3 separate regions of the Homo sapiens genome follow, and all the other regions are linked to region 2. Evidence: fine-mapped expression QTL. A gene starts in region 2. Each other region holds a variant in brackets. All regions are shown on one strand. Distances are from middle to middle.

Region 1 (4,148 bases), 40 kb after region 2:
GAGACCCCTTATCCCAGGTGTGTATATGTGGATGAGGGAGAGAACTCAGGTTTTTTCCTCCATGTTTAGCCTCCCACTGTGATCAAGCTCAGGGGCTAGGATGGGAGACCTGGCGGGCAGTCTACCCTGCAGTTTCGCTGGCTTACTAAGAGTTTGGTTTGCACCCAAGATCTTTGGGAAGCCCAAGAATGGGTGTGTGTGGGTGAAATGTAAGGGGTGGGGACGAAGCATATGGCTGAACCCTTGGGGCAGGCCAGAATGATTTTTCCTGGTGCTGGTCTGCCCTGCAAACAGACCAAGGAGACTAATTTTCATATCAGCCAGAGATCTCTGGGATAAGGAAAAGAATACTGCATTTTCTGGTCAATCCACCAGGACCCCAGGTCCCTCCTCTCGGGCATATCTCTGGCTGATATGCAAATTAGTCTCTTTGGTCAGTGTGCAGTGCCCTAGCTGGTGTGCAGGATGGCCAGTTGAGACCCTGGCCAGTGTCTTGACAAGCAGAACTGGTCACCCTCCCCTGCATGTAGAGGCCACATAAATGCCCCACACTCAGGTGTGCCTCCAAATGCACAGTGGATGCCCCTCAGACCCAGCCACGAGAGCTGTCCTCCAGAGCTGTCTGTCTGGAGCTCTGGGAAACAGGCAGGGCCAGAAGGACACCCAGGAAGCCAGTGAACATTTCCTGGAGAGTCCAGCAAGAGGAGGAGGTATCTGGGATGCCGGTGGATTGAGCAGGAAATGCAGTGTTCTTCTCTATCCCAGGCTCACCCTCCGGGTCCTCCCACACCGAAGAATCTTTGTCAAGTGTGGAGAACTGTGATCCTTCCTGATTCATAACATTCTGTGCTTCCTGTTGCCCCGATTGAGTCCAGGCCCCCAGGCCTGGTTCCCGCAGCCCCCATGGCAGCTCTGCCTGCCTTTCCCGCCTCACCAGCCTATCCTCAAGTGATGGCCCCATTGGTCACAGAGGAGTCCTACCTCTGCCCAGGGTCTAACCCTCCTCCAATCCACTCCACACCTGCATCATCTCCACCACGGCCACCAGGTCAGCCAGTGAGATTTGGTTCCCGGTGATGAACATCTTATCCTGCAGAAAATACTCCTCAAAGAGCTGCAGGCTGTTCTTCACCTCTTCCACTGCATGCTCCATCTTCTCAGCTGAAACTTCCTCCCCTGTTATCTTTGGGATCAGCAACTGGCCAGGGTTGGGAAGAGGAGGGAAGAGGAGGCTGCACTCCAGGGCCACCTGCCCTGCCAGGTCTCTGTACTCTTGTCTGCTGGATAGATATTGAACACTTCCCAGGATATAAAGCAGTTTCACCTCTTTTAGCAGTTCTGATTGGTGGAAGTTGCTGGGAACCATGTGTTCACAAGGATTTGGGGAGCTCAGCAGGCATAAGTCCTGTGATTGATTAGTGATGTCTGTCACAGGCATAGAATTCAAAGTAGAGACACATGTACTGGTTATTTGTCATCTTCTAATTTTCTATAGGCCATACTCTTTTTTGTTTTTGTTTTTTGAGATGGAGTCTCACTCTGTCGCCCAGGCTGGAGTGCAGTGGCACAATCTTGGCTCACTGCCAACTCCAACTCCTGGGTTCAAGCAATTGTCCTGCCTCAGCGTCCTGAGTAGCTGGGATTACAGGTGCCCATCACCACACCCAGCTAATAATTTTGTATTTTTAGTAGAGATGGTGTTTCACAATGTTGGCAAGGTAGGTCTTGAACTCCTGACCTCAAGTGATCTGCCCGCCTCGGCCTCCCAAAGTACTGGGATTACAGTTGTGAGCCACCGTACCCGGCCTTCTGTGGGCCTTTTGACGCTGAGATTCTCTAGTTCAGAATGAAATGCCTCGAATGCTGTCCTGGGTGAGTCACATCAGCCCCTCCCGTATGCCCTTCCCCTCGCCCTAATAAGACTCTTTCATGCCCATTGTTTCAGTCCACACTCCTGACGGCTCTGTAAGGCGGGCAGGAGAAGGAGCTGAGGAAATGAGGCCCAGAGAGGGAGGGAGACTTGCTTGAGGTCGCCGGCAGTCAGCAGGGCCAGAACTGGCCTCCAGCCTTCCTGACTTCCCTGTGCCCGTGTCCCCAAGCCCCAGAAGTGGCCCTGCTCACCTTGAGCCAGACTATCTTCTTCATGGGCAGCTGAAAGGCCGTGTGTTGCCAAGCCACGAACTCATCCACACGGGCACGTGCGTGCGGGTCTGGCGGGCACCAGTGCGATGGTGCGCTGTACTTGCGGCACAGGTAGTAAAGGATGGCCGCGCTGCAGAAGGGGCCGGTCAGGGGCACTGCCCTTGCCTTCCTGAGTGCCACTACATCAACCACCCCGGTGTGGCCTGGGCCCAACTGCTGGGGCTTCCAGAGCAAAGAGGAGCCCAAACGGCCCCGAGAAAGACCTTCACCAGAGCTGTCTGTCTGACAGTCAGTAAGGGCTGGGAAGGAGCCCTG[C/T]GGGGTGAGTAGGAGTTGGGGGCTGGTGGTATAACAAAGAGTAGGCCAGCAGGGGGAACAACACGTGTTGAATTGGGATGCTGAGGTGGGAGGATCACTTGATCCCAGGAATTTGGGGCTACTGTGAGCCAAGATCACACCACTGCACTCCAGCTTGGGTGAAAGATCAAGATCCTTTTTCAAAAACAAAAACGGGGGGGCACGATGGCTCACACCTGTAATCCCGGCACTTTGGGAGGCCAATGGGGGCAGATCCCTTGAGGCCAGGAGTTGGAGACCAGCCTGGCCAACATGGTGAAACCCTGTCTCTACTAAAATGAAAATACAAAAATTAGCTAGTTGTGGTGGCACACACCTGTAATCCCAGCTACTTGGGAAGCTGAGGCACGGGAGTCACTTGAACCTGGGAGGCAGAGGTTGTAGTGAGCCAAGATTGTGCCACTGTACTCCAGCCTGGGCCACAGAGCAAGACTCTGTCTCAAAAAACCAACAAAGAAAAACACATGCTGAAATACGAGGGTAAAGGGAGCAAGGTAAATCTGAAGAAAAGAGAGTAGGGGGTTGCAACTGGAAGAAGGGTGGGGGTGATTGGGGAGTGATGAGGCAGCCAGAGACACTGTGGAGTCCACGTAGGGTAGCCCCTGGAGGTGCAGGGAGGTTATGGACTTAATGCTTAAGATTAGGCATTATATAAGCCAGGGCATGAAAGGATCCATCTCTCTGGTGCTGGATGGAGGGTGAGCCCGAGGGGGCAGAATGGACAATGAGGGGGCCAGCAACTATCGGGAAGGTTGTGGTGTCTGGGAATGTTGGAGGCCATGGGGACAGAGGGAAGGGGATGGAGGGGAGACATGCTTCGGAGGGGATGTCCTAGGCCTTGCTGATTGATGGCTGGTGTGGGAACCTCCGCAGAACAAGGGCTCCTTTATCATCACCAGCAGCAACCATGCCAAGGTAAAAAGGTCAGGGCATGGAGAGAGCTATCGGTTAAAAAGTGGCAGGAGAGACAGCAACTGGCTGCAAGACTCAGAACTTCTTGGCTGGGCACGGTGGCTCACGCCTGTAATCCCAGCACTCTGGGAGGCCGAGGCGGGGGGATCATGGGGTCAGGAGATCGAGACCATCCTGGTTAACACAGTGAAACCCCGTCTCTACTAAAAATACAAAAAAATTAGCCAGGCATGGTGGCGGGCACCTGTAGTCCCAGCTACTCAGGAGGCTGAGGCAGGAGAATGGCGTGAACCCGGGAGGCGGAGCTTGCAGTGAGCCAAGATAGCGCCACTGCACTCCAGCCTGGGCAACAGAGCGAGACTCCGTCTCAAAAAAAAAAAAAAAAAAAACTTCTTTGGATCCTGATCCAAACAAACTGCCAAGAAAATGTTTAGGAGATAATCATAGAGTTTTGAACAGGAGCCACATATTAGATGAAATCCAGGAATTATTGTTAATTTTATGAGGTATCTTAATGGTATCGTAGTGATGCTACGCTCTATCCTAGCCCAGGCTGGAGTGCAGTGGCGCAATCAGAGTTCACTGCAGTTCTGAACTTCCTGGCCTCAAGCGATCCTCCCGTGTCAGCCTCTGGAAGTGCTGGGATTATAGGCATGAGCCACCACACCCAGCCTGTTGCTTTTTTTTTGTTTGTTTTAAGAACTCTTATCTCTGAAAAGTATGTTCCTAAACATTTATTG
Region 2 (4,148 bases):
CCTGTGAGGTAGACACTCCTGTTAGCCTTTTAGCACAAGAGAAAACTCAAGGTCAGAATGGTCAAGTGACTTGTCCGAGGCGGTGCAGCTCAGAATAGGCTCCCTGGACCCCTGGAACCCTGCATGGGGCTGGCACACAGTGGATGCTCCGTGGAGTCCCTTGCATGTCCACGCGCTTGGGTCAGGGATCACGAGGGGAGGAATGTCTTTGGCCCCCGTCTGACAGGCCCCCAGCCATCACTTCTGCAGCCACCTGACCTCTTGTCCTTTTCCTGCCCAGCAGCTGGACCTCACCATGAGCTGTGCCCTTGGGCCATGGCATTGGCCTCTAGGCCCGGCCTGGGTAGATTGGGTAGTCTGCAACAAGTCACTAGAGGCTCTTTTCAGCTAGCATTTGTTGAACAAATGCGCAACAGTGGAAAAATGTTCCCTTGTCTTCTCTTCTAATACCCTTCAGTCTGGGAGTGGAGAGGCCCTGCGGCTCAGAAAAGGCTGGAAGATGAGAGGTGGGGGGACATGTTCTGTCAGCCCCTGCTCATCCCGGTCACACCCCAAGCTGTACCTTCTCCCCAGATACCTCTCCTTTCTTTCTTTCCTTTTTTTTTGAGACGGAGTCTCCCTCTGTCGCCCAGGCTGGAGTGGGCTCCCTCTGTCACCCAGGCTGGAGTGCAGTGGTGCTATCTCTGCTCATTGCAAGCTCCGCCTCCTGGGTTCACGCCATTCTCCTGCCTCAGCCTCCCCAGTAGCTGGGACTACAGGCGGCCGCCACCACGCCCTGCTAATGTTTTGTATTTTTAGTAGAGACAGGGTTTCACCGTGTTACCCAGGATGGTCTCGATCTCCTGACCTCGTGATCCGCCCACCTCGGCCTCCCAAAGTGCTGGGATTACAGGCGTAAACCACCGCGCCCGGCCTTTTTGAGACGGAGTCTAGCTCTGTCGCCCAGGCTGGAGTGCAGTGGCGCGATCTCAGCACACTGCAAGCTCCGCTTCCTGGGTTCACACCATTCTCCTGCCTCAGCCTCCAGAGTAGCTGGGACTACAGACGCCCGCCACCACGCCCGGTTAATTTTTTTTCCATTTTTAGTAGAGACGGTGTTTCACGGTGTTAGCCAGGATGGTCTCGGTCTCCTGACCTCGTGATCCGCCCGCCTTGGCCTCCCGAAGTGCCGGGATGACAGGCGTGAGCCACCGCGCCCGGCCAGATCCCTCGCCTTTCCCCTCCCTCGCTGCCCCATGGGGTATGGGAGGGCCACTGGGGCCCGGGGCCAGTGGGGAGAGCCAAGGTCACATGGGCTCCGGATGCGGTGAGGGGTGAGGGAAGGAGGGCACCTTTCGGTCAAGATGAAATCACCATCCTTGAGCGTCGGCAGTTTCCCCAGGCTGTTGATCTGCAAGAACTCCTTGCTCTTGTGCTGCCCTGAAGAGGAAGAAGTCAGAAAAGGTCTTCAGAATAAAAACGCTGCACCTCTACACCCTCCCTCCTCCTCCCCAAGCGGAGCCCCACAGCCCTGAGAAACAGCAAGGTCTGGGACTAGAGGCCTGGATCAGCCTCACTCCCTGGCTGGGCCTCCCTGCCCTGCCACATTCCGGGGCAGCTGGGGGGCTTTGGTGGGTGGGGCCAGGTGCAGCAGGTGGATAAAGAGAAGTTTTCTAGCCGGACTCTGGTGGGCCAGGGGAGGGGAGGCAAACTGGGGTGGCTCATCTCTTCCCATCTCTTAATTCTCACAACAGCATGTCCTTCTTCCCAAGGTCTTCTGGGCTTTGTGAATTTATATGCGTGCATTCCACGCAAGAACTCTGTCAACTCCATTCAGTATTTTCTTTCCATCCCTACAGAGCAGAAGGTAACATTATCCTCCTTTTCAGAAGGCAAGCTAAGGTTCAGAGAGGCTGTGATCCCTCCAAGGCCACTCAGTCCACAGCATTCTCTGGTGGCAGACGCTGCAGGAGGAGGTGAGGGGGCTGTGCGGGCGGCGAGACGCTCAGGGCAGAGCAGGGCGGGGGCCTGGGGGTGCACTGGGTTTGTGGACACGCGGGGAAACGGGCTGGGCCCACCTTTGACCAAATCCACGGTGCGCAGCTCTAAGGGGATGCCATTCTTCTTGGCGAAGATGTAGACGGCGCGGCTGGGCTGGGACACCAGGTCAAGAAACAGCTCTAGGCCCATGGCGGGGGCGGCAAGGACAGCGGGGATGGCAGTGAAGGCGCTGAGCGCGGTGTGGGCAGCAGCTGTGGCAGGATCCCGGCGCGCCGGGAAATAGGGGATCAGGCCCCACCCCCTGGGGACAGCACCCAATTGGAGCGCACCACCCCCGGACCCGCCTCGCCCCTTCGGTTCCTGTCCAGTCCTGCCGGCCAAGACTCCACCACCAGATCCGTGCGTCCCTACAGGGAGGGCGGTCGCTATGAACGCACAGCTGGGAGGGTGGAGTTGGAGCTGGGGACCCTCGACTGGCAGGGAGGACGCGGATGCAGGGGGCCGACTGCAAGGGGAAGGGGAACCGGCTGGACAGGGAGAAGCAGGTCTGCTTTTCGGGATCCCGGTGCCAGGGACCCTGCCCAGTTCCAGGCGTCGCCCTGACCCAGAAACGACTGGGCGCCGCCGTCCTGGAAAGGCCCCAGCGCACGGACATCTGAGGGTTCGTTCAGAGCTCTGTTTCTCGGCGCTGCATGGTGGCGGAAGGGAGGGAGCGAATGGGATCCCCTAAAAGGGATCTTAGAGTTTCACCCAGTGGGATGTGACACTTGCAGGTGTCCCAAACTGGTGGGAACCTTGACTGGAAGGCTGGGGTTAAGGATGAACTTTCTGCCGTCCAGACTGTCCCCTGCAGAGCAGCTGCTGCCAGACAGCGGGAGCTGCCAGACAGCGGGAGCTCCCACTTCGTGCACAGGATGGGGGCAGGGAGCCCGCAGCCGCGGGAGGCAGGAATGACTGTCCGGGAACCTCCTTTCTTCTCCCTGAATCCCAGCCCTGGCATCTCACCAGGGGGCACAGTGATGGTCCAGGGCTGGGCCCGGGACTCTAGCTGAATCTTTCAGAGTATCCCATCCCTCTGGCCAGTGGCCCAAGCGAGTGAACCAGAATGCTTCCTTGGGAGTTTTGAAACTGGAACTGGAGAGAGGAGCTCCCTATGGGGAGGTAAACGGGAGCTGGGGCCACCTGTAGTGACATTTCCTGAGTTCGAGGAGTAGACGAGACTGAGAGAGAAAAGCTGACTCAGAGAAAGGGAGTGATAACAGGGCATGCTGGCCCACACCTGCAATCCCAGTTACTCTCACGGGATCTGTTTCTCTGATGTCTGGGTATGAAAGGACTTTCTAAGCCTCAGAACAGTGGGAGAACTCAACAAAGAAAAAACCAATACATATACAAGGTTACTTTGTGGAGGAAAAAATGGATTAACCTTAAGCAAAAAACTGGGAAGGATCTCGGTAAAAGATACGTCAGAAGGAAGTAATGTCCTTTAAGATGTTCTTAGAAACCCATCAGACAGGTAGGGTGTGGTGGTTCACGCCTGTAATCCCTGTACTTTGGGAGGCAGAGATGGGCGGATCAGTTGAGGTCAGGAGTTTGAGACCAGCCTGGGCAACACGGTGAAGCCCCGTCTCTACTAAAAATACAAAAATTAGCTGGGTGCGGTGGCACACTCGGGAGGCTGAGACAGGAGAATCACTTGAACCTTGGAGGCAGAGGTTTCAGTGAGCTGAGATCATACCACTGCACTCCAGCCGGGCCACTGAGCGAGACTGTCTCAAAACAAACAAACGAACAAACAAAAAGAAGAGAAACTCATCAGACGAAGACACAGGAAAAAAATGAGCGAAGGAAATCAGCAGAGGTTTCATTGAAGGACAAAGAGAAATGGTCAATACATGGATGAAAACATGTTTAACTTCAGTAATAATCAAGGAAGCACACACCAACACAACATGCACATACTGTTTTTATTTATCAAAGGCACACATATTTTTGAAATGAGTACTCCTAATTAATATGTACAGAGCACTTACCCAGTGCCCAGCACAGGGGTGGCACCCTGTGTGTGAGACAGCATGAAACAGGTAGACACGCGCCCTGCTGAAAGTAAGGGACCGCCTCTCTGGAGGATCCATCGGGCAATAAGGAGGTTTCCACACCTTAACTGT
Region 3 (4,148 bases), 46 kb after region 2:
ATGTCATGCTTCTTCGAGAAGATGTAGACGGCACGGCAGGGTGCTGACAGCAGGTCCATGTAGAGCTCCAGTGCCATGTTGAGACACATGCCAGGCCCCACAGCCGCAGTTGGCCAGCCACAGACCTGGGCCTATGTCTGGCCAGAGTCCCTGGCCCTGTGCCCTCTCCGATCTGGGCCCAGGATCCTGTGTTCCCCAGGGAAACCTCTTGTTTCCCTTTGTGTTGTCATAAGGCCAGGAAGCCTGCAATTCTCACAGCATCAAGGATTCTAAGGAGGCCCAGGAGTAGGCTGGGGAGAGGCCCGTGGCAAAGGTGTGGCAGCCGTGACCCTACTCTCCCCCTTCCACGTGTGCCTGTGCCCCGTGGTGCCACCTCACAGACACCAGTCTGAGAAGGGATTATGCCTGGGAATTCCCACGGCTGGATTTTCATTGCAGAACCTGACGAAAGGGGCTTTGCAGGGTCCAGAATGAAGAGGAGGCAATGAGAATTATCCCTGGAGGATTCTAGAAGTAGAGGCTGGGAGTATCCACAGGTAAATCGAGCCTGAACTATGACTAGAAAGGAATTGGGAGAAAGAGACACAGGTGAATCGAGCCTGAACTATGACTAGAAAGGAACTGGGAGAAAGAGACACAGGAAACTGTGAGCTTTGGGAGCAATGGGGACACCACCACCAGGAAGTCAGGGGGCACTCAGCCGGTGTGTGCCACACAGAGGAGCCTAGAAACTTCCTGGCCTTGGTTGGGGCTGCAGTGGCCAGACTGTGTACCTGGTGGCCAAGGAAGGTAACTAGAGCCCCACGTAGAGGACTGAGTGCCACTCACTCTATGCTGTGATCTAATAGGTCTAGGCTGAGAAATGGGACTGACCCCACTTCTGGTGACAGAGTAAGCCTGGAGACAAGCGAAGAGCATGCAGTGTGTTTATTGCAGACAGCAGGGTGCAGTGGAGTGGGCTGCACCCACTGCACCTGCTTCTGGGCCAGCTGGGGGTCCCGCCAAGCCTCACTGTGGTTCAGAGGCTGGAGTATGAGCTTGTGGGCCTCCAGCAAGAGCTCAGTACCAAGGGCAGCCGCCACACGGGCCTGCCACACTGCCAGCCGGGGCAGTCTTGGAAGAGGTCGCAGCCAACGGCAGTGGGCTGGGAAGACAGGGCAGCTGGGGTTGGGGCTCAGCCCCATGCCCAGAGTCCCCCCAGAGGGCAGGTGGGTAGGAAAGCTTCACCTGCATCACCTCCGTCAGCACCAAGTCTTCCAGGGAGATCTGCTCCATTGCCAGGAAGGGCCTGGCCACCAGCACCCCCCAATCCAGGTGCTGCAGGGCTGGCATCAGCCTCCCCAACAGCCGCTCCAGCTGTGCAGCATCTGCAGGCTGTCCGGAGAAGTGGGGCAGGAGAGACTGGGCTGGGAGGAGAGGAGCAACTTAACCCAGACTCTTGGAAGCCTCTTGGGCCTCCTCTCCATCCCTTCCCGGCTGCCACTCATTAGTGATGTCCTCTGGGGCTCTGTGTTCAGAAGGTTTCTAAGGATTCATTCAGGCTTAGGGGAAGGAGTACTGTGATAGATTAGTTATGTCTGCTGAGGACAGTGGAAGTGAAGCTAATATGTAATATGTACCAACTGGTGCCTTCCATCTCTGGGGGTCCAGGCCCCTGCCCCAGCCTGCATGACAGGGCCTAGGAAGCTCACCTTGCACAGGTAGACATTGGTGGCAGGCAGCTGGATGGTGACATGCTTCCACGCCAAGTACTCATCCACGCAGGTGCGGGCTTGCAGCTCAGGTGGGTACCAGTGTCCCCGTATCTGGTACTTTCGACTCAGGTATAAAACGATGACCATGCTGTGGGCAGGGGGTGTCAGAGATCTTTTCTCCAGCCTGTCAGGGCCAGGTGGCTTCATTGCTCATACTCAGGGTGATTTGACCAGGTTTTCTCCCCACCTTCACCTTCAGGGGAGGACCTCCCCTATACTGCAACTCCCTCCAGGCAGTATCTCCCCACGACCAAACCACTCTGTTTCTCCATTTCCAACTCTGATCCTCCCTGGGCCCATGTTTCCACC[T/A]CCCCTCCCAGTTACCATACCATCCTGCCCTCTGTGCCCAGGCCCCACTCCCTGGCATCAGGGTCCCCACTCAGAGTGCCTGCCGTGTGGGCCCTGCCCAAAAGGTCTCCAAGTTCCCTTCCTAGTGCCCCAGAACACTAGGTGCCCATTTTCTATCCTCAGGTAAGCCCTGGGAGGTGGATACATTATTCCTCCCACTCCGTTTTACAGAGGAGAAACCTGGCACACAAAGTTCTGTGATTTCCCCAAGGGCATGGATTGAGGAAGTGGTGAGCTGGGATTGAATGTGGAGTCTCCCCTGGGTCTGCCCAGCTCCTAGGACTCTGAAAGGATGAGCTGGGGACATTTGGGGAGGAGCCAGCCTCAAGCCTGGGCCTTGCCCGCTGGCTTCAGGTTGTCCAGGTTTATCCGGGTGACCTACGTCCTTTCCCCACCTGGGCAGCTCCAGCTGGCTCAGACTCTAGCCAGGTTCCAGCCTCCAGCTTTAGCCCAAAGGTGCCCCTGGGTCCAGCCTCTGCATCGGAGCTACACAGGCTGAAATGAGGAAGGGGCCTCAGTGATTTGGAAAGATCTCCAAGCCAAGGAAAGATCTCCCCTCTCGCCTCTGCCTCCCCCTACAACTCTGAGCCCCAGAACCCAGGCAGATCCTGGCTCTGACCCTGGGTGGGCACCAGGTCACCATTACCTCTTTGCTAGTAGGAAGTCGCCATCTCTGAGGGCAGGCACCTTCCCCAGGGGGTTCACCTTCAGGAACTCAGGCTTCAGGTGCTCCCTTGGTGGGCAGAAAGGAGAGAAGGCTCAGTGTAGGGCCTGGTCCTTGGCACCCACTCCATGGGGCCCAGCCCAGCCACCTGGCTCACCCCAAGCCAACTCCACCATCCACAGCTCAAAAGGGATGTCATTCTGTCTTGCAAAAGTGGATAGTGTGTCAGGTCCAGGAAGAGCTCAAGCCCCATTGCTGCTCCTCTCACCTGCCCTCCCCAGAATTCTGGACCTCCAGGAGTTGCTCAGCCCTTCTCCACTAGTTCTGAGCTGTTTCCTCTCCATAGTCTGCTGTAGTGGGCCAGAGCACAGGGCAGATTTGTCTTCAGGGACTTTCTCTGGGCATTCCTGGGCAGAGAACTTCATCTTCTCTGTTAACTCTTGCTGATAATTCTCTGTAGCTAGGCACCTTGTAAAACCCATGTCCCAGAATGCCAAACCTGGAAATGCAATGTCAGCGCCGAAACTGCATTGAAACTGAATGAATGAGGTCCCCACCCTCTTATCTAAATATCCTATCAGTCTGTTGAATGTCAAAGTATGTAGGGGTGGTGTGGGGGAGCCTATAGGGAGTCTCCATTTCTGTAGCTTTCCACATGTTCCATGCAGAATTTTCCTCTAATGACCCTTGGACACCGTGGTGGTCACTGTTTCCCTGCATAAACCTTTGATGATCCTTATCTTTAGCGTACCAGTGAAACACCAAATTCAGATTTTCAGTCTGTGCAGTCTATGTAGTTAATAAAATCAATTTCTAATGGAATATGCCTGTGCCTGGTGTGTTTGTACCTAACCACTGCTAAGGACTTTCATTGATAGCTAGACCTTGGAGTTCCTTCCCCTGGACCCCTGACCCAAGTATTTTGCACTCATTCCTCTGCCAGTGTGTTTCATGGTGTCCTGCTTCCCAGAGTGCCTCAGGGAATGCTTGCATTGGATATGAATGAATCGTTGCGGTCACCATGGATGGGATTCAGGCCTAACTCTCACCAAGACCATAAGGCCACAGTCTTTGATATAGATTCCCCATGTTAAATCTGCCATCCTCAGTGTAGTGAGAGTGATATTGAGAGAGAAAAGTTAGGTAATTAAGGTGGGTCCTTGGTAAAACTCCTTTAAACAGAGGAACAGCCTGAAAAATCAGGCTTCAGGCACAGATAAGGAAACTTGCACAAACCTCTGGCTCACTCAGATAAAGGAACAATGCCCAACACAGAAACACCTTTGATCTTTGTGCCTAAGGCATGCCCACAGCTACTTTGATAAGGGAACAAGACCCAGCATAGAAATGCCTTTGTCCTTTGTATAACCAGTGGGCTTCCA

What was found.
Region 1: its variant is fine-mapped to the expression of GSTT2B in transverse colon (GTEx, PIP 0.90).
Region 3: its variant is fine-mapped to the expression of GSTT2B in stomach (GTEx, PIP 0.92).

What each region holds. Positions count from the first base shown.
Region 1 is chr22:23,999,054-24,003,201 of GRCh38, forward strand. It overlaps GSTT4 (glutathione S-transferase theta 4), which reads right to left. Exons shown (of 5, transcript NM_001358664.2): 3 at 2,122-2,272; 4 at 1,022-1,198. Among named protein-coding and RNA genes, the nearest start is that of GSTT4, 4.3 kb to the right of the region's middle. The variant C/T (reference allele first, on the strand shown) is at 2,458.
Region 2 is chr22:23,958,963-23,963,110 of GRCh38, forward strand. It overlaps GSTT2B (glutathione S-transferase theta 2B), which reads right to left and starts at 2,233. Exons shown (of 5, transcript NM_001080843.4): 1 at 2,058-2,233; 2 at 1,332-1,419. The coding sequence starts at 2,169. RefSeq lists an enhancer at 454-1,119.
Region 3 is chr22:24,005,280-24,009,427 of GRCh38, forward strand. GSTT4 (glutathione S-transferase theta 4) reads right to left here and starts at 174. Exons shown (of 5, transcript NM_001358664.2): 1 at 1-174. The coding sequence starts at 77. LOC105372959 (a long non-coding RNA gene) reads left to right here and starts at 272. Exons shown (of 2, transcript XR_001755457.1): 1 at 272-313; 2 at 439-3,588. The variant T/A (reference allele first, on the strand shown) is at 2,064.